2 separate regions of the Homo sapiens genome follow, and region 1 is linked to region 2. Evidence: fine-mapped expression QTL. A gene starts in region 2. The other region holds a variant in brackets. All regions are shown on one strand. Distances are between the middles of the regions.

Region 1 (15,514 bases), 75 kb after region 2:
TGAATGAATGTTTCCATTCACACCCCAGCCCCATGACGGAATGAATGATCACAGCAGAGCCCTTTGAAAACAATTTACTTCCTCAACTTTGCATCTTTACCTAAATTAGTCCATTCTTTAAGTATATTTCACCATCTAGGTAAAGAGTTTTTCTTTTTCTCATCTGCAACTACTCATATCTATTCAATTTTTCCCCTACTACTTTCCGCCTGACTAAAACACCATATGAATCAAATCACCCTCTATCTATGCCTTTCTTCTTTTCCTCTGCCCAGCTCCATATTTAAGGTCTGTTTACATAGTTACCATCTACACAAGAGCTGTAACACGCAAGCGTGCAAGTAGATATCTGTCAATGTATGTCCTATATCTCTTTACATAAATGCTTCCAAAACAGGGATTTGCCTTCCTGCTTATTTGTACTACCTACTCTATCACATTTAGGAGGTGTTCAACCATTATTTTAAAATGGTTATGAAGTTGTAAACAGGGAGAAAGTATTTTTCATAGTTTTTTTTTTTTTTTTTGAGACAGAGTTTTGCTCTTGTCCCCAGGCTGGAGTGCAATGGTGTGATCTCAGCTCACTGCAACCTCTGCCTCCCAGTTCAAGGGATTCTCCTCCCTCAGCCTCCTGAGTAGCTGGGATTATAGGCATGCACCGCCATGCCTGGCCAATTTTTATTTTATTTTTATTTTTTAGATGGAGTCTTACTCTGTCACCCAGGCTGGGCCTCCCAAGTAGCTGGGATTACAGGTGTGCCTCACCACGCCCGGCTAATTTTTGCATTTTTAGTAGAGATGGGATTTCACCATGTTGGCCAGGCTGGTCTCAAACTCCTGACCTCAAGTGATCTGCCCATCTTGGCCTCCCAAAGTGCTAGGATTACAGGTGTGAGCCACCGTGCCCAGCCTATTTTTTGTATTTTTAGTAGAGACGGGGTTTCACCATGTTGGCCAGGTTGGTCTCGAACTCCTGACCTCAAGTGATAAGAGTATTTATTAAATAATATATGTAGGCAATGAGAAGAAAATGGAAAAACAATTTTTTAAATAACTGCATGGTGTTAAAAATATTTTAAAAATTAAAAGATGTCCGTGTATGTATGTTTGCATGTTATTTACTTTGGACTTTAAAATATTTATATATTTGAAGCCTGGTGTAGTGGCTCATGCCTGTAATCCCAGCAGTTTGGGAAGCCAAGGCAGGTGGATTGCTTGAGCTCAGGAGTTTGAGACCAGCCTGGGCAACATGGCAAAACACTGTCTCCACAGAAAAATACAAAAGTTAGCTGGGCCTGGTGACGTGTGCCTGTAATCCCAGCTACTTAGGAGGCTGAGGCACGAGAACTGCTTGAGCCAGGGAGGCAGAGGTTTCAGTGAGCTGAGATCGCGTCACTGCACTCCAGCCTGGGCAACAGAATGAGACCCTGTCTCAAAAAAAACAAAAAAACAAAAAAACAAAAAAACAAATGCCTACTTGAGCGCAGAGATAAAGGAGAATATAGAGGAACTCCTGGTAGGATCGAGAGTCTTACATTTAAATTTATTGAGCTCCTTTTCACATGCTCTCTCCTTATTGTCCAATTTATACATTTCATTCAATATCAGCTTTGCCGGAGTGGGCACTTTTTATAGACTAGACATTTAAATTACTTTGGTTCATTTTATATTTTATCATAGTAGAAATCCTCATTGCATAATAGAATTTTTACTGCTATTCTTTGCATTTTTATCCACTAAAAAAACAACTGTGGGTCCAGTACGGTGGCTCATGTCTGTAGTCCCAATGCTTTGGGAGGCTGAGGTGGGCAGATTGCTTGAGGCCAGGAGTTTGAGACCAGCCTGGGAAACACAGCAAGACCCCATCTCTACAAAAAGTTAAAAAGTTGGCTGGCTGCAGTGGCTCACGCCTGTAATCCCAGCACTTTGGGAGGCCAAGGCAGGAGGATCACTTGAGGTCAGGAGTTCAAGACCAGCCTGGCCAACATGGTGAAACCCGGTCTCTCCTAAAACTACAAAAAAAAAAAAAAAAAAAAAAATTTAGCTGGGCGTGGTGGCAGGCACCTGTAATCCTAGCTACTCAGGAGGCTGAGGAAGGAGAATTGCTTGAACCCAGGAGGCGGAGGTTGCAGTGAGCCCAGATTGCGCCACTGCATTCCAGCCTGGGTGACAAGAGCGAGACTCCATCTCAAAATAAATAAATAAATAAAAGTTAAAAAATTAAGCAGGCATGGTGGTGCATGCCTATAGTCCCAGTTACTTGAGAAGCTGAGGTGGGAGGATCACTTGGATCAAGGCTGCAGTGAGCTATGATTTTGCCACAGCACCCCAGCCTGGGCAACAGAGTAAGATTCTGTCTCAAAAAAAAAAAAAAAAAAAAGAAACTGTGAGGACTGAGTTGTTGTTTTTAAATCACATTTCTTACATAAATCAATTACAGGGCATGTGGCCTTGTATTTACAGGGCAGTTTATGTTTGACACCATGGGTATGACCAACATTCTAAACAACCAAGATACTGCGCAAGCTCTGGCAGATGGATTGATGGAGTTGTCAAAAGAAGATTCTGTAAGTGTTTCTTTGAAGAAAGTAAACTATGAAAACCAACATTTAAATAAATTCTGTTTGCAGTTATTATTAATTTTTTTGACCAGTTTATCCCTTTCAGAGCACAGTTCCTCAGAGAAATTACATCAGTTTATAAAAATAGCCACTAAGAGATTCTGGGCCCAAGATGTGTTAAGTACACAAAACAGACAAGTAGGAAAATCTTCTAGGTTATTTAAAGTTTATTACATTGTGCCCTGTTTTCTGTCTTGTGCTTAATTTCAGTCAGAAGTGACTTTTTTTTTTTTTTAATAAAACATGTTAGTGGCTTTATATTTCACATAAACTTTACTCAACAGAGAAACCAATTCCTAGTTTCAGGAGAAATCTGAGAAAGTGTGACCCAGATGTGAAAAGATGACGGGAAAAGGGGCTAGATGAGAGAGGAAGGGAAAGAGAACACAACGGAACGGAAAGAAGCAAATCAGTAATTCGGCTGGGGATGGGTGTAGGAGAAACCCAAAGAAACAATTTCATCAGACACAGATCCAAGGTTCTCTCTCATTAAGGTCAGTCTACACTTCAGAAAACAGTGAGAAGGAGCCAGTCCACATTTCAGAAAATAGTGAGGAGAGGCCAGTCTCCAGACAGCTCTCCCAGCCCCAAAGAGGACAGCATGGCTATAGGAAAATGCAATGTGGCCAGGCGTGGTGGCTTATGCCTGTAATCCCAGCACTTTGGGAGGCCGAGGCAGGCGGATCATTTGAGATCAGGAGTTGGAGACCAGCCTGGCCAACATGGTGAAACCCCGTCTCTACTAAAAATACAAAAACTAGCCGGGCATGGTGGCGGGCACCTGTAATCCCAGCTGCTCAGGGGGCTGAGGCCAGGGAATTGTTTGAACCCAGGAGGTGAAGGTTGCAGTGAGCTGGGATCGTGCCATTGCACTCCAGCCTGGGTGACAAAGCAAGACTCTGTCTCAAAAAAAGAAAAAGAAAAGAAAAGGCAACGTGCAGCTCTCCCTCTGAGGGGAGTCGGGAATAGAATGGAGATAGGGCTGCTGTTAACATATTCAATAATCTAAATTCTCTAGTTTCCAAGGAATTCTCAAGGAGAGTCTCAAATCTTTCTCTTCCACCATCATAATTCTGCTTTGTGGGTGAATTTAACATTGTCTCTGCACACATTCTCTCTCTCCTTATTATTGAGTATCTGCTCCTGTTTCAGTGTGGCTTCCTGGGTCTGCACCAGGCATTTCTGGGCGTAGCTGTCCTGCACTGGGTGGGGGCTGCGAAGCTGCATTAGCTGTAGTTTGTCTCCTGTGAAGTCTCAGCTCTGCAGTGAGGCTCAGGCAGCCCAATGACGAAAGGCCTTTGGCGAGCCTTGCTGATAAAATGAGCAGGGATATTCACAGAGGTGCCCCCTCACTGTCTGCCAAAACACTGAAGGATTACTCAGCATGCTTGGTGTCAGTTCAGTGTACTTATTTCCACCTAATTATTTAAAAATAACCATGTATGATATAATTTGGATGGTGCTCAAACCTATAGCCTGAGGGGAACCAAATTTGAGAGCCCCAGCATGTTTTCCCAGCAATTCTGCTACTGCAGCCTCTCTCCCAGGCCTTCTTCCTCCCCCTGAAAGACAACAAGATCCTTCCTGTCCCGTTTCCTCATTTGGCCAAGGGGTTGGTGTGGGCCACTTTGGTTCCAAAGATCTTGAGAGACCCTCCCATAAAATTTTGGTGTCTTAACTGGATTGTGACAAATTGTTGAGAACCAAGAGTACATATGGTAACTGGAATATGAGATGAACTAGAAAGTCTCATGTACTGACTTGAATTGAGCACTAGTCACTCTGTTTTCTGGACATGTCAATTAATTAGGTAGAAAGCTGAAATCCCTGCTAAAAAGTGTGCTCTCTCTTCTGCTGCAGTATTGACATCTGTATTTCAGAAGAATGTTTTAAATGGGCATTTTTCTTGCGGGGGGGTTGGGCATTCTTTAGGACAAACCTCTGGAATTTTTGTCGTATTTTCTGCTGAAGAAATGTGGCAAAAAGATCAAAGATGTTGAAGGAAATGTTATTCCAACAAAATGTGACCCAAAGACAACATTCAGTTTATTCATGAAGGTAAAGTTGCTGCTGAATTTTTATGCCATTGCTTTTCTGTAGAGTTAGGCACATGTGATAAAGAAATTCATAAATCATTATATGAGCTCTACTGGGAAGCTTTAACTTGTCATTTCTCCAAAGAATTTTATTTTCATGAAGTATTACTAAAATAGGGTGTTTTGTAGTTTCATAATATGAGTAACATTTAAGCCGCTTAAAAGCATAAACTGCAACATGTTAACTTGAGTAACACTATTTGGTTGTGGGGAGAAAGGTAGAAATTTGCATTTTGCTTTGACATTTATGAGCCCTGAGAGAACTTAAGGGGAATTTTTTTTTGAGGGAGGTGAAACTAAGAATAGTTCTTTTTTTTCTTAGTTGAGATTCAAATTCATTAAAGAAAAAAATGGGTTTAAAGCGAGTTCTGGCTGGGCGCGGTGGCTCACGCTTGCAATCCCAGCACTTTGGGAGGCCCAGGCGGGCAGATCATTTGAGGTCAGGAGTTTGAGACCAGCCTGGCCAACATGGTGAAACCCCGTCTCTACTAAAAATACAAAAATTAGCTGGGCATCGTGGCATGCCTATAATCCCAGCTACTCAGGAGGCTGAGGCAGGAGAATCACTTGAACCCAGGGGGGTTCAGTGAGCCAAGGTTTGCTTGAACCCGGGGAGGTTCAGTGAGCAGAGGTTGCAGTGAGCCAAGATCGCACCACTTTACTCCACCCTGGGTGACAGAGTGAGACTCTGTCGTAAATAAATAAAACTAGTTCATCAGGCCAAAAAGAATAATTTTGCCAGTACTATATTAGGAATCCAAGCATTCTTGTTTACATGAAATAACCAGGATTCAAGAAATGCTGAGAATTACATTGTCGTTCACATAACTGATTTCTATGTAGGGGAAAATACTGTTTTAGAACCATTTTATGTCCATAGGAAAGTCACCTGTCTTTGATGTTTGAAGGCGTAGGATGGCAGTCCCTAACATAATCTCACCATGGAGGGCTGCTAGGAGTAAGAGACTTGTGAGCACCTCTAGCAGGCAAATCATTTGTTGCCCTATTAACCTGATATTCTGGAAGTATTTGTTAATGCTTCTTTAAAGGACAGTGCAGGGCAGGGCAGGAGCAGACATAGAGAACTGCTGGAGGCAGCATTCCCTCTGCCTGCTGCCCCAAATGAACTCAGCAGCACACGGCCTGCCGTCATTAAGACCCATCCTTGGCCAGGCGCAGTGGCTCACGTCTGTAATCCCAGCCCTTTGGGAGGCAGAGGTGGGTGGATCACTTGAGGCCAGGAATTTG[A/G]GACCAGCCTGGCCAACATGGTGAGACCCCGTCTCTACTAAAAATACTAAAATTAGCCAGGCATGGTGGGGCACACCTGTAGTTCCAGCTACTTGGGAGGCTGAGGCAGGAGAATCGCTGAACCAGGGAGGTAGAGGTTGTAGTGAGCCAAGATCGCGCCATTGCACTCCAGCCTGGGCCATAGAGTGAGACCCTATCTCAAAAACAAACAAACAAAAAAAAACAAAACAACAACAACAAAAAACCCTACCCTTCTGCTGTTACCATAGCACAACCCTTACTTTAATCCTCCCCTCCCCGACAAAGTGCCCAAGTGGCTTATTCTTCCCAAACACAAGCAACTCCCTGAGACAGGAGTCTTTATTTTATTTTTTAATTTTTTTTTTTGAGATGGGGCCTCGCTCTGTCACCCCATGCTGGGGTACAGTGGCACAATTATAGCTCACCATAGCCTTGAACTCCTGGGCTGAAGCCATCCTCCTGTCTCAGCCTCCCAATGTGCTGGGATTACAGGCCTGAGCCACCACGCCTGGCCATCCCAAGAGGAGTCTAAATGCCTTTCCAGGGATATCTAAGCCCTTTACAGGTTGAAGCCCTGCTTGCTGGCTGCCCTGCCCCCAAATCGGTATTTTCAGGAAACTTCTCAGGCAGAGGGCAATTCCTCATCTTTTTAGTTCCATTCTCTAAATATTTGCAGGAGCTAACCAGCTAACCACATGCTAGACCTTCTGCTAAATCCTGGGACTAGACAGCAAAGTAAGACAGTTCCTGCCTTTGTGGAGGATGAGGCTGATACACAAATAGGTGGTGCAGCATGATTAGCACCTGTTAACAGAACGCACGGGCTGGGATGGGAACCCCAGGGTGGGAACGCCAGATGGGCATTTAGTCCAGACTCCTCTTTCTGCTTCTCAGAGGCTGCTGCTTTCATTTCATTATGCCAGCCACCATCTCTTTGAAATTCTTGGAGATTATTCTCCCAAAAGGGTGGACATAGTCTCCATCCATCCTTTAGCCTATGAAAACCTGAAAAACAGCACCCAGGCCTCTAATACCACTCATTTTCCCTTGGTTCACTAAAGGGAATGATCAACATATAACCACATTACACAGGTTCCAAATTCTTCCAAAGTCCTTTCAACATCTGCTGATTCCTGACTCCCTGGAATCCTTATTGGATTCTTTCACCCACCTTTATTCCTAAGGGTGAAGCTATTACCTCGAAACCCAGGCATACAGATCCCAGAAAACCCCCTCTTTGGAGCAAGAAAGCAATAAGGACCAAACTAAGGTGCTTCCTCCTCTGAAGTGCCACTCTCACATGTGAAAGACCTAACTCTTGGTGAGAACCATTTCTGGGCTCATTGAAACCTAAGGGAATGATCACTTGGAGCAGTTCCTCTGAGGCACTTTCTCCTCTAGTTCCTCTGCCAAATAAAATTCAAAATGAATGAAGTCTTTTCAACTGGCTATTGATCCGAACAGCTCATTATGTTCATAAAATAATGCATGAAATTTGGGCTGAAAGTTCCTCATTGCTGGAAATCAGGCCCTCTATTGCTACATTGTCTGCCTGTAATAAAACTGGAAAAATGCAAAACTCCTTAATGCCTGGAAATTTGATTAAAAAAAATCGAATTAGAAAAAAATACATATTAGATTCTCATTTGATTCTCTACTATTTAACACTAAAGAGCTTGGGCACAAAGCCCACAGAACAAATGCGGAGACCTCTAGGAGGAAGAACCACAGCTAAACGTCAGTGTTGCATTAGGATAAAAATAGAAAAGCTGATTTTCCTTACATTAGGGTTTATTTTTAAAACTGGATATTCATTCAGAAGCCTCAGGAGACAAAGGAGGGGAAAATGAAAGCTTCTCTGAGATAATTGCTTTAAAGACCCTTCCAGCCGGGAGCAGCGGCTCACGCCTGTAATCCCGGCACTTTGGGAGGCCGAGGTGGGTGGATCACCTGAGGTCAGGAGTTTGAGACCAGTCTGGCCAACAAGGTGAAACCCCGTCTCTACTAAAAATACAAAAATTAGCTGGGCCTGGTGGTGGGCGCCTGTAATCCCAGCTACTCGGGAGTCTGAGGCAGGAGAATCCCTTGAACTTGGGAGGCAGAGGTTGCAGTGAGCCAAGATTGCAGCACTGCACTCCAGCCTGGGCGACAAGAGCAAGACTTTGTCTCAAAAAAATAAACAAAACAAAAAAAACAAACCCTCCCAGAGAGGCTTGTGTAATACGGATTATCTGTCAAATCCAGGACTGTGTGTGTGTGTGTGTGTGTGTGTGTGTGTGTGTGTGTGTGTCCATCCATGTATCCATCTATCCATCCACCTACCTACCTACCTATCATCCTGCTGCCCAATCATTATTTGCTCCTGGTTTTTGTCTGCCTATAATGTTTACACTGATACCATGCAACCATGGTGATGGCTGCCCGCCAGAATTATAGTTGTTCCTGAACTCTACCTGTCATTTTCACAACTATTTCTGGCCCCTTATCCAGGCAGCTGAGTGTTTGCTGGCAGAAGCATCAACAATGACTAGAATGTCTCTGGAAAATAGTGTCTGCCCATGCTCCATCCTAGAGAAAAATTCCTAACATGTTCTTTGTGAGCTTTTTTTTAATGGTCTTCCTTATATGTCCCGCAGAGCCAAGGCAAAGACCCACCAACCCAGAATGATAGTTGTCTTATAAATGTGCAAAGTTTCTGCCATGTTACTTCCTCTGAATTCATCCATAAAAACTAAGTAAAAGATAGCATCGGAATCTAAAATTAAGCTGTAAAAATTCTGGCAATTAAACATATAATATAAAATGAGTGAACTTGCCAATTTTAGGTTCAAACAAAATTACTATGCCAAATCAATGTCCTATCCACAAAGAAAAAATTATATTTAAAAAAGTAAGTTGCTGCTGAGCCGGAATGTGAAACAAAGCCCAACTGTAAGCGAGCAGGTTCTAAAATAGCCAAGGTGGTCTGGGGGGGTCCATGATGACACCTGAATTTTAATGCATAAATTTTCATGTGAGCCTGTACAGTCAGGTGATCTCCCAGAGAAAGATGGCTCCCTTATCTGTGAGATCCACAATACAATTGTGTGCTGTTTGGGTTATCTTAATCTTGGCCCAACCTGAGAGTTTTGTTTTTGTTTTTTGAGACAGTCTCACTCCATCATCCACGCTGGAGTGCAAGATACTGGCTGGGCACAGTGGCTCACACCTGTAATCCCATCACTTTGGGATCCCAAGGCAGGAGGAACACTTGAATTTGAGACCAGCCTGGGCAACATAGTGAGACCTTGTCTCTAAAAAAAAATGAACAAAATTAGCCAGGCATGGTGGCACATGCCTGTAGTCCCAGCTACTTGGGAGGTTGAGGTGGGAGATCAATTGAGCTTGGGAGGTCGAGGCTGCAGTGAGCAAATATTGCACCACTGCACTCCAGCATGGGTGAAAGAGTGAGACCCTGTCTCAAAACAAAACAAAAACAAGTAGATCTCCTCCCTGGCTCCAAGCCATAAGTATGGATACATGCCAGGCTGGTATGAGACAGCCACAAGTGCAGAGGACAAAAGAAATCATTAGAAGACTCCCTGGAGCAGACAGGAAGCACTCAGGCTCAGGTGGGACCTCCTGCCATCTGGGACTGAGCTAGCTGGCTGCAGGTTTGCAGACCAGGGTTCTTCTGCAGAGGCTCAGGCTGCCAGAGCAATGTGGCATCTCCAAAATAAAAATTCGCTTTTGCCTCAGTAGAGTAAGGTAAAAGGAGCCTTGGTTACAAATTGAAGTTATTCTTCCAGCCTCATCCCTGGACATCCAAGGGTTGCCATTGGTAGTTTTGTCTTTGATGAGGAAGGCAGCAATAACGACCATTGACCATCATCATCCCTCAACATAAACACAGGACCACTGCTGTGTTGCTAGGGTAGACCCTGGGGTACTGCAGGCAGCAGGGGTGGGGGTGGAGGGCTTTAAAAAAATGTGCTAAGTTTGAGAGAGGCCACAGCAAGAATAGTTAACAAGGTAAAGTGAAGAAAGAATAAGCCTTATTTAAATGTGCAGGTCTAGAAAGGTTATGTGAACTGTTTATGACACATTTTCACTTGGTGGTGAAAAAAGGAGTGAGTTTTGTGAGCTTTTCCTTCTGGATCTTAAAAATAAAAATAACCTATTTGCCCTCAACTGAGAAGGAACAGAGCAGAGCTGAGGCAAAAACCTGTTACCTGGCCAGACTTGGTGGCTCATGCCTGTAATCCCAGCACTTTGGGAGGCCAAGGCGGGCAGATTACCTGAGGTCAGGAGTTCCAGACCAGCCTGGCCAACATGGTGAAACCCCATCTCTACTAAAAATACAAAAATTAGTGGGGCGTGGTAGTGGGCCCTGTAAGCCTGCTACTCAGGAGGCTGAGGCAGGAGAATCGCTTGAACCTGGGAGGCGGAGGTTGCAGTGAGCCGAGATTGTGCCATTGCACTCCAGCCTGGGCGAGAGTGAGACTCCATCTCAAGAAAAAGAAAAAAAAAAAAAGAAGTCTGTTACCCAGGAATGTGTGTGAGTCTTTAAGCCTGGGAGGAGCCCCAGCCCAGCATCACTTCCCTGGCTCCCAAGGAAGAGGGAGCTACGCTGGATTTAGTTCTCAAGTATTATGTAGTTCAAAAGAAGCAAAGGCTATTTTTAAAAAACATAAAATTGAATGTAAGAGTGGCATCCCATTTGCAAGCACTTAACTCATTGTGTGTAGGGAACACTGTGGTTGGGGCTGAAGGCAGAGGCTTCTGAGGGCCTCCTGCGGGCACAGTACTGAGTTTTCAGAGATGTCAAGACCTGCCTCCAATAACCAAGTTTCCATTCAATCTTCAGGAAAGAAATGTTGTAGAAGACAATTCTTGGGACACAAAGTCCAGGCTCAGCAAAAATGATTTAAATTTTGAAGCACTGATTAATCTGGTAAGCTATTATATAATGTAACTTTACCATTGGTTTTGCTCCTGATAGTGAAATTTCAGCCTTTATTCTGGTTAGTTCTTCATTTTCCTTGAAAATTTCCCTTTGGGGGATTAAAAAAAAAAAACCTCAAAAATTATTAGAGAGAATTCAGCTGGCAGACTTTTTTTTCAAATAAGCCCCAGACTGAAAAGAAGTTGAGCCAGAAGGATAGCAGTGTAACATCTTGGAGCAAAACCAATCTGTATGTTACTCCCTGACTTTCCTTTATGGTACTAGGATGTCTTTTAAAGAAATGGCACATGGACAAAGGCTCACAGTTTCTAATTAATCTACCAACTTACAGTCTGACTTCAAAAGTTGAATCTAATGAACACAATGTCTAGGGCTCCGTCTTTCTGTGTCAAGGGTAAAGTGTGGAGGAAGCTGCAGCCTCAGCAGGGGCCGGTCTCGTCCTGTGTAACCCACGGCATGGGCACACTGTTTTGTTTTCTTCAACACACAAACACACTTATTATCACCTTTCATTCTCAGAATCCTATAAAGGACACATCCCTAGCCACATTTTATAGATAAAGAACTAGAGTTAAGAAAAGTTACATGGGGGAAAAAAGTCAAATGACTTCCCTAAGGCCAGACAATTGGGCAAGAAAAATCTTAAGTCCTGCAGCCCTGAGCTCAGACCTGGGGCTCTTTCCCAGCCCCAGACACCCTGGCTGCAGACAGTGCAGGCCGTGGAGCCCCAGGACATGGATGCCCACTTGCCCCAAACCCATCCCTAGGAACACCCAGGAGGAGCATGTTCCATAGAGCAGTGGATATGAGGGTATCTCATCTGACTATTAGTAATAATACCTCATAGTGGTTTCAAGATAACAACACAAGGTTTGACAATGAAAACCTTAGTTCAAAATGATTATAAATGTTGGATAACTCCAATATGTAAAAATATATACATACAGAAATACACATATAATATTAAAAAAATAATATGGACTGTAAGCCAACTGCCAAGTAGGATGCAGATGTATTTTTTACCTTATTAGATATGTCTAAATAGGTATTCTAGACAGACCATGTGTTTGGAAAATAAACAAGAAGAGTTTGGCAGCTCATGTTTGTAATCCCAGCACTTTCGGAGGCCAAGGCAGGTGCATCGCTTAAGCAGAGGAGTTTGAGACCAGCCTGGGCAACATAGAAAAACCCTGTCTCTACAAAAAAATTACAAAAATTAGCCTGTTGTGGTGGCTACTCTGGTGGCTGAGGCAGGAGGATTGCTTGAGCCCGGGAGGTCGAGGCTGCAGTGAGCCATGAGTGCACTACTGCACTTCAGCCTGGGTGACAGAGGGAGACCCTGTCTCAAAATAAAAAATGTAAAAAAAGAAGAGTGTGTTTATAATATTTCAAATACAGTGAGTTCTCTCATTTTTCTCTTAAGTTTTTTTACATTATAATTCCAGTTAATGAAATTATGGTTAACTCATCTTGGTGAAGATCACATAGCATTACACATTTTTTCATTTTAAACAAGGCACTTATTTAAACAACAAGGTGTTTGACTTGAAGGAAAAACTATCTGGTAATCATTTTTATCAACTAATGGATCCTCACTTAAAGACAGATTGCCCTACATATAAGAGGTATGTACGAAAACGTTATAAAATGTGCCCTTTGTGTTACAATGATAAATGAAAAACATGAGAATTCTCCAATTGAACAAGGTATGCAAGGATTTAGATACATATATATATACACACACACACACACACACACACACATACATATATACATATATTGCTGTTGTTAAAACAATGAGAGCAAGATAACAGATTGGAATATAAAGATAACTGCTGAATGAGCATGCCACGAAGGGAGAAAGGAGGTCCTTTTGTTTTTGTTTTTGTTTTTTGAGATGGAGTCTCGCTCTGTTGCCCAGGCTGGAGTGCGGTGGCATGACCTCGGCTCACTGCAACCTCTGCCTCCCAGGTTCCAGTGATTCTACTGCCTCAGCCTCCTGAGTAGCTGGGATTACAGGCATGTGCTACCACACCCAGCTAATTTTTGTATTTTTAGTAGAGACAGAGTTTTGCCATGTTGGTCAGGCTGGTCTCGAACTCCTGAGCTCAGGTGATCCACCCGCCTCAGCCTCCCAAGGTGCTGGGATTACAGGCATGAGCCACCGCACGTGGCCAAGGAGGTCTTTTCACAGAAGCATTTTTCCCCTTCTCATCTCCATTTGATGTTGATGGTATACCATTAGCCACGAATACATTAGCCATACCATTAGCCACTAATTTTTTTAAAAATGCTTGTGCATATTCATCAGTTACCTTATGTACAATAAAGGAATGGGGAAGGAAATGAAAGAATAGAGCAAACTATACTGTAATAGTTAGGATGTAGTGGAACCAGATTGCAGTTTTTTAGTTGAGAATGCAGTCTTGGTCTGTAAGAATAGCCTCTGGCGTAAAATAGCAAGTTCTCTTTTTACTGGACCCCTCCTGCCTGCTGCTGAAACACATCAATTGTATCTTTAACCTCCACTTCCAACTCTGCAGGTGTGTCTGTTTCATTGATTGGCCATCTGACAAATTGGAATCTGATCCGCCTCATTGACAAGCCTTGCTATTCACAATAGGCTTTCATTAGTTTACTAAGTGGTGTATGCCTGTTAATCTTAAATTGCACCAAGGAACCATCCTGCCCACCACCCTAAAATTAATATGAGCAGTTCTGACCCTTCCTTGAGCTTTCTGTTCACCATGCTGAGTGCTGGAGTCACCTCAGGTCCGCAAGCAGCACAAGTGGCAGAAGCAGTATTGTCATATTTTATTGGGGGCAGTGTGGGGTATACTTAGGGCTGGAGGGAAAATAATAATTCTAGGCTAAAATTGAAGGACATTATGTTTTTGAAATTTAGATATTATAAATTTTCTGGTATAAAGATGCTCATTTTATAGCTTTTGAAATATGCAAATAAAAGAAAAAAATTATCTAGTACCAGCAATAAAAATTAATTTCTCTCTCCATATAAACATAGCACACACAACATCAGGGTATGGAATTTCTTTAGGCCAGTGTATGATTTTCACCTCTGCATTAAAAAATAAAACAAGAGGCTGGGCAAGGTGGCTCATGCCTGTAATCCCAGCACTTTGGGAGGCTGAGGTGGGTGGATCACAAGGTCAAGAGATCGAGAACATTCTGGCCAACATGGTGAAACCCCGTCTCTACCAAAAACACAAAAATTAGCTGGGCATGGTGGCATGCACCTGTAGTCCCAGCTACTCGGGAGGCTGAGGCAGGAGAATTGCTTGAACCCAGGAGGCGGAGGTTGCAGTGAGCTGAGATCACACCACTGCACTCCAGCCTGGAAAAGAGAGTAAGACTCCATATCAAAAGAAAAAAATAAAATAAAATAAATAAATACACAAAACAACAGTTGGAAACATAACATAGCACATCTGGCAACCTGGCTAGCCAGGAGAGATGGGCTCATAGCTCCAAGTCTATCCTTCATACTGAAGTTAGATCCTTAATACTGAAAGAAGAGCATATGCTTCAGATTTTTCATATGTCAGCTGGGGAAGCAAATTAGTTAATAATGAAAAGGTGTCTTCACCTGTTCATGCTGCTGCAGTAGAATACCTGAGACTGGGTAATTTGCAAAGAACAGAAATTCTTTATGGAGGCTGGGAAGTCTAAGATCAAGATGCTAACATCTGTCAAGGGCCTTCTCTTGGAGTGCTCACATGGTGGAAGGCAAGAGAGGACCAACTCCCTCTGCCAAGCCCCTTTCTAAGGGCACCTGATCCCATTCATGAAGGAGGAGTCCTCATGACCCAGCCATGTTTTCATGACTCCACTTCTTAATACTGTCACATTGGCTACACCTGAATTTTGGAGGGGACACATTCAAACTGTAGCAGAGGGCTAGCTCATTTCAGTTCTTCTGTTTGCAAGATAATCAATAAAACACTACTTGGAAAAAGAAATAGGAAAACAAACAAGAGTAGACAAGCCAAAGTCTTCCTCACTAGACTGTAACCTCCATGAAGACAGGACTCTGTCTTGTTCTCATCATTACATGGCCAGCACCAGCATAAGACACCTAATATGGATTTGGATGGACAGATGGATAAAAATAAGTTTCAAACTGCCTTCCTTTAGATCCAAGATTAAAAGTCCCTTCTCTACTTGGCCATCAGGCTGGCCCCATATGAGGGGCTCTTTGATGATACTAGGGACAAGTGATGGACAGCGGGGTCCTCCGTAGCCCCCGTGAAGTCCCCTTCAACCTGAACAGCACAAACCAGCAAGGGGGGTCTCCGTGTAGCTGCCTGACTGCTCAGCACTTCTACTTCTCCATCACTGACTTGAGTTCTTAACACTTCTCTACAGGAGAGAATACTCCAGAAGGACTCAGCAGAAAAGCGAGCTAGAGTTGTCAGAGAACTCTTACAGAGTGAGAGAAAATACGTGCAGATACTGGAAATTGTGAGAGATGTTTATGTCGCACCACTGAAAGCAGCATTGTCATCAAACAGAGCGATTCTGAGTGCTGCCAATATCCAGATCATTTTCTGTGACATTCTACA
Region 2 (14,426 bases):
TCCTGCCATTTCTATTTTTTACCATTTTTTTTAAACCATGTCAACTATTTTAAAGGTTCTTAATAATTTGGTCACAACCTGTATGCACATGCTGTTGTATTTTTCATTCTTTTTCATTCCCCTCAGGCTGGTTTTCTGGATGCCCAAGAAACACATCATGTTCATTCTCATCATAATGCGTTTGTTCAGGTTGTACCTCCTACCTAGAGTTACTCTCACCTCCTTGTTCTCCTTATCACGTTACATTCAAGCTGACCACTTCCATAAAGGATTTCATTTGTACCTTAACCTAGCATTCTGCCTTATATTATTATCTGTTGATTTTTACATGTGTTAAATCTCAGCCTTCCAATTGGACAAGAATGTCTTTGATGGCAGTGCTTATGTCTGTACATTTTTGCAACCTCTGCCATACATGTACTGCAAGCATTTAGTTGCCTTCAGTGTATTCATATCATTGAATTGGGTCTTGAAAAATAAGTAACAGGTGGATAAATACAGGTCAGTGAGAAAAATGAAAGACAGTGATTATAATAAGGGATGAGTAATTCATGCAAGATTCCCGTCCTATTTCCAGTCTTCTTGAGGAACAATTAAGAGAATTATAGAAAAGATTTTAGAGCTGTAATGATTTTATTTTTGGACTTTTAAACAGAATTGTTTTCCCAAAGATGATAAAGTGGTGTCTTCTCAAAAGATTTTTTTAATCTAGTGTCTTGTCATGTTTGTCTCTAATCAGCTCCTTACTATGAAAATGATTATTGACACATTAAAAATAACTCTGGGCCAGGTGTGGTGGCTCGCACCTGTAATCCCAGCACTTTGGGAGGCCGAGGCAGGAAGGTTGCTTGAGGCCAGGAGTTCAAGACCAGCCTGGGCAACATAGCCAGACTCCTCCCCCATCTCTAACAAAGAATAGAAAAATTAGCCAGGTATGTTGGCACATGCCTTTGGGAGGCTGAGGTGGGAGGATTGCTTGAGCCCAGGAGTTCAAGGCTACAGTGAAGTATGATCGTATTACTGCATTCCAGCCAGGGAAACAAAGTGAGTCCTTATCTCTAAAATTTAAAAAAAAAAAAGTCTTCAAATTCTAGACAAGAGTATAATTTACTACATTTAAAAGTTGTCTTACCACATCTGAGTGTCTCAGTAGCAACACAAGAGCTTTTCCTTTGAACATATCTCTTTTTTAAATACCGCTTTCTCTTTGCTCCTGAATGTAATTTTCAGAAATGTAAAAGAAGTACCCCTTATAGAATGAAAATCTTCTTAACTGATTAATTCAGACAAAAACTCCATTTGGCAGATGCACAAGATGTTCCAAATACTTCTGCTAGCTAAAATGAAATGTAGTTTGCTTTCTTGTGATTTGAAGAGAAGCAGCAGTCTTTACTTTTCCAGCCAAATCCAGTAGCAGAATCATCTTCCACAACAAGGAATTAAAGTAATTAAAGTGCAAGTTCAATGATCGTTTTCACTTACTGCTTTTAGTAAATGTGACTCGCTGTAATTCACCATAACTGGAGGCCTAGGCCTTGTTGAAGGCTTCATCAGGAAATGTGACGCAGAGATTGTGCTGCTGTGCTTCATATTGTTGCCTTATGGGATTATACTTGAAATGCATTGTGCTGATGTTCTTGACAGGGCGGAGGGATTTCTCTTTCCTGAGCTCACCAAACTTATTCCAGTGTTGATCGCAAGCTGTTGATGCACAGGCGTCTTGTGGCAAGCCCAGCTTCAGTTTATGTTAGACAATCAGTACACATGCTGGTGTGTTTTCCAATGGCCAGTGATAAGAAATTAAATAAGTATTTGTGAGATTTGCTATTTTTTAATAAAGTAATTGTTTTAAATTAATCTCTGTTGTCTGTTTTGAAGAAACCCATATAGTCTTCAATCTGGGAAATACAAGGGTTCAATCCTTAAAAGTAAACTGTGTTTATAAAATTTGAGGTTCTTGAACTCCTTGCAAATTCTGTACCTTGTGTACATTTAAATACTGGTGTGATGAAAGAATGTGAGCTTTAAAGTTACTTACACCTTAATTTGAATCGCCGTTCTGCCCCCTTAACTTTGTGTTCATGCACGTTTACTCAGGTTGGATTTTTTTCTTTTTTCTTTTTTTTTTTTTTAAATCTAGAAAATGAGGTCAGTAACCAAGTTGGTAGTTGTTGTATGGGGAGTAAGTGAAAAAGCGCGTATAGGATGCTTAGCACAAGCCGGGCACGGTAGCTCACGCCTATAATCCCAGCACTTTGGGAGGCTGAGGCAGGTGGATCACTTGAGGTCAGGGGTTCAATACCCAGACCGGCCAACATGGTGAAACCCCATCTCCACTAAAAACACATACACACAAATTAGCCGGACGTGGTGGCGGGCTCCTGTAATCCCAACTATCAGGGAGGCTGAGACACAGGAATTGCTTGAACTCAGGAGGCAGAGAGGTTGCAGTGAGCCGAAATTGTGCCACTGCACTCTAGCCTAGGCGACAGAGCAAGACTCTGTCTCAAAAAAAAAAAAAAAAAGAGAGATGCCTAGCACAATAGCTGATACCAGTAATGCTCAGTAAACATTAATTTCATCACCCTTTAAAAACAGCTTTATTGAAACAATAATTTATGTCATAAAATGTACCCCTTTAAAGTGTACAATTCAGTGATTGTTAGTAGATTCATAGAGTTATATACCCATCACCGTGATCTAATTCTAGAACATTTTCATCACACTAAAAAGAATCCCATTAACAGTCACTCCTTGTCCCCTAATCCCCTCAGCCTTTGGCAGCCACTAACCTCCTTTCCAGCTCTCTGGATTTTCTATTCTAGACATTTTATATAAATGGAATCATACAATACGTGGCCTTTTGTGACTGGTTTCGTTTACTTAGCATGATGTTTTCAAGGATTGAAGCTTCATCCATGTTATTGCATGTACTTCATTTCTTGTTTTGGCTGATCATATGCCATGGTATGGATAGAACACATTTTGCTTATTTATAACTCAGTTACCTTTGTGTTGCAGAAGATGCTCATGCTTCTGTCTCCTTGTTTCCAGGCCACAGAAATAAGCACCTAATTGGGGGAGGGGAGGAGAGGGACTTACTGAATATTTTTCAAATCTTGATTTTAATAATTTTTGGCTTTCTGAATTCAAAGTATTTTGATCAGTAAATTGGTCTTTTTAATACCCCTTTTAAAAATTACAGCATCATGGAGGAAACTTCATTTGGGTTGTGAGAATAGGGATTTAAGGGGGAAAAAGTCGTACTCTAGGGTCTGACAGGGCGAAAGGACACTTTGTCATGTGACATGTTTTTCTTGGATTGGTCCTGAGATAGAGTAAAGCAAAAAGCTGGTTCCTGCGGGTTGTGACAGAGCAGTGGATTGACCTTGTTTATTCACTTGGTTCATTCGCCCTTTGTGTCACAGGGCCCTAAATGGGTCCCAGGTAGCGAAATATTAGCTTATCTAATTTGTATCCTTTCACACTCCTTAAACACATGTTCAAGGAAACAGGAAAAAATGCAGTGCCTGGATTAGAATAAAATTTAAGGCCTGGTTTGGTGACAGGCACCAGTACTTTTAGCTACTCTGGAGGCTGAGGCGGGAGGATTGCTTGAGCCCAGGAGTTCTAGGCTATAGTGTACAATGATGATTTTACTGGCATACAGATGAAAAAGAAAAAGATATTTGAAATAAAAATAAAAATATAGTGCACAATGACCAGGCCTGTGAATAGCCACTGCACTCCAGCCTAGGCAGCATAGCAAGATCACATTTCTCATATGAAACTTTACTAGAATGAAACTTATGGTTTATTACATAGATGTTGCTTATTCGTTGTAGGAAAAATTGAATTACAGATGATTTTTAAAACTACCAGAGCAAACCATTTAACCTATTTGTGTACATACTCCCAGATTTCTTACACACGTTGCAAAAAAAATAGATCGTACCATTCTGCTGGTTTTCTAAGCTGCTTTTTGTAAGTAATGTACTGTGAGCATCTTTTCATGGCCATAACTATTACATACAAAAGAAAAAAACAGGCTTCACAATAAATAGTTAAAAGACATTTTGACCTGAAACTAATGAAGAAGGGTTTTTTGGTTTTGTTTTTGTACCTCCTGTATAATGCTGAAATTGGTAATTCTGCAGTAAATATTAACATTTTCTGAGGATCTGCTGAAGATGAATGTGACAAAAAATAAGAAACTCCACTTTCCTCATCACACAGCCTTAATTAACATCGCTGGCTTTGTTTGAGATCAAGCAAACGTTGGCTTCAGTGTCCAAGTCTCTTCTTGGGGTCCCACGGCCTTGGGTCTGGCACCTCTGCTGGGCACCTCGCAGGGCTTCCGAGACGTGCCGCGACCCACGGGACCCCACGGAAGCTTTCTCCCACCGCAAGCTCCCTGGAGGCAGGGAAAGGAGCCGGGACCCGAGCCTAGCTGGCCTCAAGAGAAGGGCGGTGGCTCGCACGGCGCGGGCGGCTTTGCTCACTGCAGCTGGGGAGATGCAGGTTGGCCGTCCGGGCGCGGCGGCGGGAGGGGCTGCGGGCCTGTGGGGCGGGGTGGTGGCTCCGTGTTGTTGGATCCCTATGGAGATGACCCTGTCCCTGCCCCACCCCTCTCCGGAGCTGCGGCCCGAGTTGGCGCACTCGATTTTCACTGCGCGGTTCCAAGAGGAGACAGCCGCCACTGTACCGGGCCTCATAGCCACTTCCTAGAGGTAAAGCCCGTGGCTTCTGAGCCGCTAGTCTTTTTCTTGGGGCCGCCCGGGGCACATCGCCTGGGCCGGCTTAGTTTCCCAGTGCAGTCGCCCAGGAAGACCCTAAGCAGCGCTGAGGGGCGCAGGGCCCTCCCTCCGCGACCCTGGAGTCCCTTAGCAGCTCTGGAATTAACCAAGATTCTGAAGAGGCTCTGGGGAGAAACAAAATCCACGCGTAGGGTAGGGTTTGCATCGGGCCATGCCAAGTAAACTCTTACCTCCTCCAGAGAACTGATTTGGGATCGAAGTAAAGTTCTTGAACACTTTGGAAAACGCTGATTTTCATAGGTTCACACCAACTGCCTTCTTCCTTCTGACAGTTCTCTCCCTCTTTCCTCCTATGGGGTCCAAAAATGTAGGGAGTAGGGTGGGGGCTGGGTTGGGGGAATGAGGGAGGAATACAAAAAATCTACTGTGAATATAGGTCTTGGTTATAAGGATAGCTCTAAGAGTTAATATGCTAAGATTTGATGAGCAGGACAAATAAAACAGTGGTACTTTAAAATATCGATTTAAAAATACCGATGCTGTGCTTATTAATAAACTTTGCATATGTATCAGAACACAATATCCTGACATCATTGGTGTTAAAGTTCACTGCAACCCATGCAATTGTATCCAAGCCTGTTAAAGTCTGTTCTGCAGGAACTGACATTTGTGCTCCACAGAAACCTCAAAAATCATGCTCTACAAACACTTATTTCAGTGGGAGGAAGAAGGGTTAAGGACTTGGAAGTTTTATAGCAACAGTTGCATCTTGTTTGTTACAGCTTTAGTTTTATAGCTTTAAACTTATAAATCAGTGAGCACATCCACCATTTGAAAATACCAGCACAAGTATGGTATTTTCTATCACCGCCTGTAAGATCAATAGCCCAGGTTTCCTCAAAACACGCCATTATTTTCATTATCCATTGCTTAGTGTGTACTTAATAAAAATTATATACTGGCATGTAGTTTTACATGCCCTAAATGTGGGACATTTAACTCAACTGGAATTGTCTTTCATTTCTGTTTTTTCACCAATCACACTTACTTTTCTTCTACTCCCGTTCTTTTGTGCGATCTTTAGAACCAGATACCTTTTTGGAGGCATATTTAAGGAAGTAAATTTTTGATAAATAAAGGAATCATTGCACAATTTGCATGTGTGAATTGCAGAAGTACGCGCATGTAGGTACATACCTCTGCCGAGGAGCAGTGTTTTAATTTCTAAGCCACTCTGTCTACTGTAGTGGAGAAGGACCAGACTAACTTGCATTTCTCCAGCTGTATAACAGATAACCTGTGGAAACACAGTTAATTGACATCATTGCTCTTCTGTGTGATCCCAGTGAGGATTTAGCTCTCTATATGGGCTGGCAATTGTTCAGCCATTTCATCTTTTAATCTGGCTTTGGTTGTTCTGAGAGGAAAAAAAAAACAAAAAACTTTTTTCTCTTTACTCTCACACACTCAGTACAGCCCTTCACCTCTTGTCACCAAAATGTATGGGAATTTCTTCCCACCGACAACCAATTCTCCAGTGGCCACCAACTCTACGTCCTATAATTTAACCCAGTTCTGACACTGTGTACCTGGAGTTAGTGTCAGATCCCATACGTTCAGGGCTCAGTCCCAAAAGACTGCCCCCCACTTCAAATGCCAATCACAAGTCCCAGGTTGTGACTATATGTTGTTTATGATTAACCAACCAGTTACAAATCTGGATTCCCACAAGCCCCTCCTCCGGTTTGATTAATTTGCTAGAGTGACTCACGGAATTCAAGGAAACACTTTACTTATGTTTGCCCATTTATTATAAAGGATATTACAAAGGACAGATGAATAGCCAGATAGAAGAGAGGCCCAGAGAAAGGTATGTGGGCAAGGGTGTGGAACTTCCATGCCTTCTCAGCCCCTCCACATGTTCAGCTATCCCAAAGATCCCTGAATCTTGTCCTTTGGGATTTTAATGGAGGATTCATTCATAGGCACAATTGATGACATCATTGGCCATTGGTGATCACTCAACTTGAGCCCTTCTCTCTTCCCCAGAGGTCAGAGGATGGAGCTGAAAGTTCCAGCTGCATAATCACATGGTTGGTTTCCCTGGTAACCAGCCCCCATCCTGAAGCTATCTAGGGGTCCACCAAGATTCACTTCATCTGAACAAAAGATGCTCCTATCACCCAGGAAATTCCAAGGGATTTCGGAGCTCTGTGTCAGGAACTGGGGTCAAAAACCAAATATTAGAACAAAAGATTCTCCTAGCATCCCTATCTACAAGAGTTTTAGGAGCTGTATGTCAGGAACCAGGGACAAAGATCAAATATATATATTTCTTATTATTCTACCATATCACAGGTTGTCACACAACAGGCCCCATCCTTCTTTTGACTAAGCATGGAAGTGCCAATGTCAATTTCCGAGTTCCTCATCAATATACCAGTTGTAAAGGATAGTCAGCCACGACATAGAAGTGTATTTCCAAATACATCCGTAGCAGTTGTTAAAGCAAACTAAATATGGCCTAAGATGGACTCTGTACTTTTATATTTGAATGCTTGTGGGTGAATTGCAACCTAATTTAATAGGTAGACAAGAATGAAAACCTAACTTAGGAGTATGTGCCTGTAATAATCGCTGAGTCTTGGCCAATCCCAGGAGCCGTACTTCAACCACTCATACACTGCTGAGTGTTCAAACTGTGTTCAAATAAGGCAAATGCTGAGCTGTAACCAATCCAGCTGTTTCTGTACCTAATTTCTGATTTCTGTACATCACTTCATTTTTTTGTGTATAAATTTGTTCTGACCACAAGCCACTCCGGGAGTCTCTCTGAATCTGCTGTGATTCTGGGAGCTGCCTGATTCACGAATCGTCCATTGCTCAATTAAACTCCTGTAAATTTAATTCGGCTGAAGTTTTTCTTTTAATATCCTTTTATATCCAATTCAAATTAAACTTACCCTTCAGGAAAAATCTAGTATAATTTTGAAACTTGATAGGCAATTACTACCTGTGTAACCTTGGATGATTTTCTGATTTTTTTTTTTTTGAGACGGAGTCTCGCTCTGTCACCCAGGCTGGAGTGCAGTGGCACGATCTCGGCTCACTGCAAGCTCCGCCTCCCGGGTTCATGCCATTCTCCTGCCTCAGCCTCCGGAGTAGCTGGGACTACAGGCACCCGCCACCACGCCCGGCTTATTTTTTTTGCATTTTTAGTAGAGACGGGGTTTCACTGTGTTAGCCAGGATGGTCTCGATCTCCTGACCTCATGATCCGCCCGCCTTGGCCTCCCAAAGTGCTGGGATTGCAGGCGTGAGCCACCGCGCCCGGCCTCTTTTCTTTTTTTTTGAGTCAGGGTCTCACTGTATCGCCCAGGCTGGAGAGCAGTGGCACAATCTTGGACCTTGGTTCACTGTAACCTCCGCCTCCTGGGCTCAAGGAGTCCTCCCATTCCAGCCTCCCAACTAGCTAGGACTACAGGTGAATGCCGCCACACCTGGCTAATTTTTGTACAGATGGGGCTTTGCCATATTGGCCAGGCTGATCTGGAACTCCTGAGCTCAAACAATCCACCCACTCTGGCCTCCCAAAATGCCTGGATTACAAGTGTGAGCCACTGCATGCCGACTGGATGATTTTCTCTGCCATGTTCTTCTCTTGTATAATCTAACTCCCAGGGTGAATCTGAAGATTCAATGAGCCAGTGTATGGGGGAAGAGATTTTCTAGTGCCGTGTCAGTCAGTGTAGACACTCAAACAAAAATTAAGATGTTAAATACAACATTTATTACACGCCCCCCTCCCCATTTTGATCTTGTTACTTAGCATGTTTGTTGGATCCAGTTGCAAATGAGGAGAGACACAGATTGGGGTCTTCTATTTTATTCCTTTCTTGCAACAGACTTTAGAAGCATTTAGGCCCCTGCTTTTCAGAGCGAGATAACAAAGGGGCCTCCAGTTTACATCACCCACACTGGAGTTTCAATTCAAAGTAAAAAGCTGGGCTGTGAGATGGCAGCCACAATGTTTTTTCCAGTAGAGACATGCCACTTTGTAGAAGAACAAGATCATTCTTAAATGATCAAGGAAAAACTTCATGGCACAGTATTTTAGCTTCTGTAGAAAAGACACACAGAAAGGATGGAAAATGGTTGAGAGTTTGGTTTTATACACTAAGGTTTTGAGCCTCTCTTGGTATATAGAAGATACTGGTGACTGCTGTATTGTAACCAGAATGCACAATAAATATTCTTGCCCCAGAATGAATTCTTATCTCAAATGAATCCCTTAAAATGCTTCCATTTTTTCTAATTTGCTGATGTCATGAAAGAATAATCTGTCAAATCTACATTTAATTCAATTCTAAGCTTATTTTACCATATGACTCATTTAACATAATGATGGAAATTGCTAGTAAGAAGATCACAGAGTTGATAAGTTGTCACAGTTGTGACACAGTTGTCAAATCCTAATAGTGAAGGAATTTGTTTTTTTCTTACTAATAACTTGCTTTTTTAGCCCCTGAATTTGGAAAATTGGCAGATGCATGTCTCTGTTTGTGCTGCTATAATAAAATACCTGAGACTGGGTAATTTATAAAGAATAGGAATGTATTTCTCACAGTTCTGGAGGTTGGTAAATCCAAGGTCAAGGTGCTGACAGGTCTGGTTGGTTGGTGAGGGCTGCTCTCTGCTTCCAAGACGATGCCTTGTTGTTGCATTCTCCGCAGGGGAGGAATGCTCTGCCCTCACATGGCAGAAGGTGGAAGGGTAAATGAGGTGAATGCTGTGTGAAGCCTTGTAAGGGTCTGAATTCCAGTTCACAAGGGAAGGAGCCCTCATGACCTATCTCTTAAAGGCCCAACCTCTTACTATCATTACATTGGCCATTAAGGTTCAAAACCTGATATTTGGAGGTGACACATTCAAACCATAGCAATTATGGTTTAAACTGCAATTATACAACAATTATCCATTTACTCATTCAGCAAATACTTGCCAAATACCTATCCTATGGCAGACACTATTGTGGGAGGAAGCTTCTAAAATGGCTCCCAATGACCTCAGCTTCCTGGTCTATATGCCTTATGTGAATCCACTCCCCTTAGATGTGGGTAGACACCTATAATGCAGGAGTTGACAAACTTTTTCAGTAAAGGCCCAGATAATAAATATTTTTTGCTTTCTGAGCCATATGGTCTTCCTCCCAATTACTTAATTTTGTTGTAGCCAAAAAATCAACCACAGAGGCCAGGTGCGGTGGCCCACACCTGTAATCCCAGCACTTTGGGAGGCTGAAGTGGGCAGATTGCCTGAGGTCAGGAGTCCGAGACCAGTCTGGCCAACATGGTGAAACCCCGTCTCTACTGAAAATACAAAAAACATTAGCCAGGCATGGTGGCATGCACCTGTAATCCCAGCTACTCAGGAGGCTGAGGCAGGGGAATTGCTTGAACCAGGGAGGTGGAAGTTGCAGTGAGCCAAGATCATGCCACTGCACTCCAGTCTGGGTGACAGAGCGAGACTCTGTCTCAAAAAAGAAAAAAGAAAAAAAATTCTCCAGTAAGTAGATGAAGAAAAATACTGAGTAAATATGGAAACAGTAGGAAAACAGGAGACTCATAAATGAAATTTATTAAAGAAAAGCAACCACAGATAATACATAAATGAGATTGTCTGTATCCCAATTACTTTATAAAATCTGGTGGTGGGCCAGATGTGGCCTGCTGACTGTGTTTGCTAAACCCCGGTTCTGATGAATCAAAAAGTGATGGTGTGTCACTTGTCACTTCTGAGGTTACGCCACACAAGGGCTCCGGCTTCCATCTTGCCTGCCCGCTCTTGCTCTCTTGCTCACTCACTTGGGTGGAAGTGAGTTGCCATTTTGTGAGCTAAACTATAGAGAGGCCCACATGGGAGGGGAGCCTGTGGCCAACAACCAGCGAAGAACTGAGTCTCTCATTCCAACAGTTTAGGAGGAACTGTATCCCTCCAACAATCAGTTATGTGAGCTTGGAAGTTAATTCTTCCCCAGTCCAGCTGTGGCATCCTCAGCTGACAGTTGAATGGTGAGAGACCCTAAGCTGGGGGACCCAGCTAAGCTATGTCTACACTTGTCACTCATAGAAACTGTGAGATAATAAGTGTTTGTTATTTTAAGCCACTGAGTTTTGGGACAATTTGTTACACAGCATTAAATAAACAGTATGATAACCCCATTAGATAATCAATACACACTGTGATAGTCTCCATATAACAATGAACAAGGGAAAATGCTGGATATTATTTTCCCCTTTTGAAGATTCGTTGTGAACATTAAGCATATTAAAACATCCAAAACATCCTACAAAAAAGAAATAAGTTTAATATCTCAATCATTTAATCACAGATCCTGTTTTCTGGGGAAATACTCATTAATATCTTATGGAACTACTATTTGGAGGAATGTAAAAAGCTAGAATAGGAAAAGAAATTATTCCATTAAAGAAGTAGTAATTGCCAGGCTGCCATTTCTCCCTGGGTTGAATAGTCAACGAAATTAATATCTTCACATAATCAAAATAATATGAGGCAGGCAGTGCAAGGTGGCTCATGCCTGTAATCCCAGCACTTTGGGAGGCCGAGGTGGGTGGATCACTTGAGGCCAGGAGTTCGAGACAGCCTGGCCAACATGGTGAAACCCCATCTCTACTGAAAATACAAAAATTAGCCAGGCATGGTGGTGTGCACCTGTAATCCCAGCTACTCAGGAAGCTGAGGCAGGAAAATCGCTTGAACCCAGAAGGCAGACATTGCAGTGAGCCGAGATTGCACCACTTGCACTCCAACCTGGGCGACACAGAGAGAGACTGTCTCAAAAAAAAAAAAATAATAATGATAATAACCCTGAGCCAGGAGCAGTTGGTTATGCCTGTAGCCCCAGCTACCCGGGAGGCTGAGGCCAGAGAATCACTTGAGGCAGAAATTTGAGGCTGCAGTAACCATGATTGTGCCAAAGCACTCCAGTCTGAACAACACAGTGAAATCCCAACTCTAAAAAAAAAAAGGAAAGAGAAAAAGAAAATAATCCTGTTCAAATTTGTACATATATGCATGTACACACACACACACACACACACACACAATATACTATACTATGCTCACATATTTAAGCCCACCAGCAGAGACAGCGACTATTCTTTCTGTAATGTTCAGCTCATTATATAACTCAGTAATCCCTTAACACAGAGTATAATAACAATTTTGCGAACTTGCTAAATAAAAATCCCATATGTTGGCTCTTGGATTTCACATAACAACAGCTGGGCATCTTAAGAAACTAAGAATTTGTTTTCATTTAGTGTTGATTCAGAAGGAGGTATTTAATTTCCCATATTGCCAAGAGGTTTTTATCTGAACAACACATTATTATAATATAGTTTGCCAAGACACATTACTGTCTGGCTTTACACATGAGGAAACTGAGGCCCAAATACTAAATCACTTGTAAAGCCTCAATTTTGGGGAGTCAAAGCAGAGATCCAAATCTGGTGCTCACTATGCCATGCTGCTCGTCTGTAACATTTCTAAAATTGTTCCTAATATGATACATGCCTTTCTAATATATTCATTGAAAAAATGTGCTTCTTCTCTTGAAGTGTAATAAGAGCAGAGGCACTGCAAATGTCTGTCTTATTCTAGAATTATTCTGACTCTTTAATAAAGTTTCTTCAGCTACACCAAGCCACGTTGTACTCTCTCTTCTTGGAATTTATAGCAACAGAGGGTTGCTTAGAAACTTAAATGTTTGTGATGCTTGTATCCCAGCTAGAAAATCACTGACAAGTGGTTGTCCACCTTGAGTTTTACCAACTCCAGTAATGGACATAATCTCTGGAGACAGCGAGAGCTGTGGAGTGATTTTTTTCCCACTTAGATTGAGCCAAAATCTTCCTCTCTGACATCATCCACTGTTCCTAATTTTGTCTTCTGGGGATTCACAGACCATGCGTAATTGATTTTATACATATGAAAAAATTTTAGATAGTTGATGCGTGTGTATATAGTGTGAGAAAGGGGTCCAATTTCTTTTCTTTTATAAAACAGATATTCCGTTTTCTATAAATGAAACAATCCACCCTTCCCTTTCTGATTTGTCATCTAACAAGTGTCCCTGTATACCTGGGTCTATTTTGGAGTTTCTCTTCTGTTCCACAGGTTTTGTTGTCTGTCCCCAAACTAATACCTTTATTATCTTATTACTACAGCTTTATAGTAAGTCTTGGTATCTAGAAACACAGCTCCCTTCCTTGTTTATCAAGACTACTGGTTTTGGCACTTTAAAGTTCCATAAATATTTTAGAATCAGCTTTGAAGTTTTAAACACACACACACACACACACACACACACAATATTTCTTGGAATTTGTTACTGAGATTGCATTGAATCTGTAGATCAAGTTGAGGGAGTTAATCTCTTCACTCTACTGAGTCCCCTAATCCATGAATAAGACATATCTCTCCATTTATTTAGGACTTTAAAAGTATTTTTCAATAAAGTTTTATAATTTTCTTCATAAAGTTGGCACTCTTAATTTTTTCCAGGTACTTAGTGGTACTTGATGTTATTGTAAATATCATTTTATAAACTTCTTGATTGAAATACAGGACATAGAAAAACACGCAGATCATGAGTGTAACGTTCAATGAATCACAGCACGCAGGGAAGTCTAGGGCTCCCTCTCTACGTCAGCACCAGCATGCAGAATAACCTCTTGTGTCCCCTCCCAATCATTACCCTCTCTTTCCTCCCCACAGGTAAACCTTATCTTGACGTCTAACACTACAGGGTAGAACTTTGGTAAATGAACCCGTGCCACATGTATTATTTTATTCGCAGCTTCCTCTGTGTAATATATTGTGTGATTCATCCTTACTGTTTTGTGTAGCAGCAGGCTGTTCGTTTCATTGACGTATAGTATTCTATTGCGTGAATGCATGACAGTAGATTTATCCACTGGACTACTGGTGGATGCTTGGGTTGTCTCCAGTTTGGAGCTATCCAGTGCAGCTGTGCATCTTCTTGGTGATATATTTTAGTCCACATGTATATTTTTTCCAGTTGGGTCAAGTTTGGCATTATTCTAGAAATAACGCCAAATAGTTTTTCAAAGTACATATACCAATTTGCACTTTCACCAGCTGTGTGAGAGCTCTGGATGCTCACCAACACATGGCTTTGTCAGTCTGTTCTGGATAACAAACCATTCCAAAGTTTAGTAGCTTGAAATAGGAAACGTGTTATTTTTCACAATTCTATGGGTTGGCTGGCCTCAGCTGGGCAGTTCTTCTCTTTGTATGTAGGGGGCTGGGGTGATTCATGTGGTTGCACATGGGAGCTTAGTTGCAACTGAAATATCCAAGATGACTTCATTTGCACATCTGGTGCTTTGACGGGGGTGGCTGAAACAGCTGGGGGCTGGCTCAAACTCTCTCCATATGGTCTCTTGTCATCCAGTATCCCAGCCCAGGCTTATTTACATGGCAGCTGGATTCCAAGAGTTCAAAAACAGAAGGTATAAGTCTTCTTAAGGTCCATGCCCAGAAGTCACACATCATCACTTCCACAACATCATTGGTTAAAACAAGACAGTGGTAGTGCAGATTGATTCAAGGAGAGGGAGAAGAA

The links.
Region 1: its variant is fine-mapped to the expression of ECT2L in left ventricle (GTEx, PIP 0.90).

What each region holds. Positions count from the first base shown.
Region 1 is chr6:138,865,640-138,881,153 of GRCh38, forward strand. ECT2L (epithelial cell transforming 2 like) reads left to right here. Exons shown (of 22, transcript NM_001077706.3): 13 at 2,464-2,567; 14 at 10,833-10,919; 15 at 15,318-15,514. Among named protein-coding and RNA genes, the nearest start is that of ECT2L, 77 kb to the left of the region's middle. The variant A/G (reference allele first, on the strand shown) is at 5,966.
Region 2 is chr6:138,791,463-138,805,888 of GRCh38, forward strand. ECT2L (epithelial cell transforming 2 like) reads left to right here and starts at 4,625. Exons shown (of 22, transcript NM_001077706.3): 1 at 4,625-4,730. It overlaps CCDC28A (coiled-coil domain containing 28A), which reads left to right. Exons shown (of 6, transcript NM_015439.3): 6 at 1,287-1,857. The coding sequence ends at 1,341.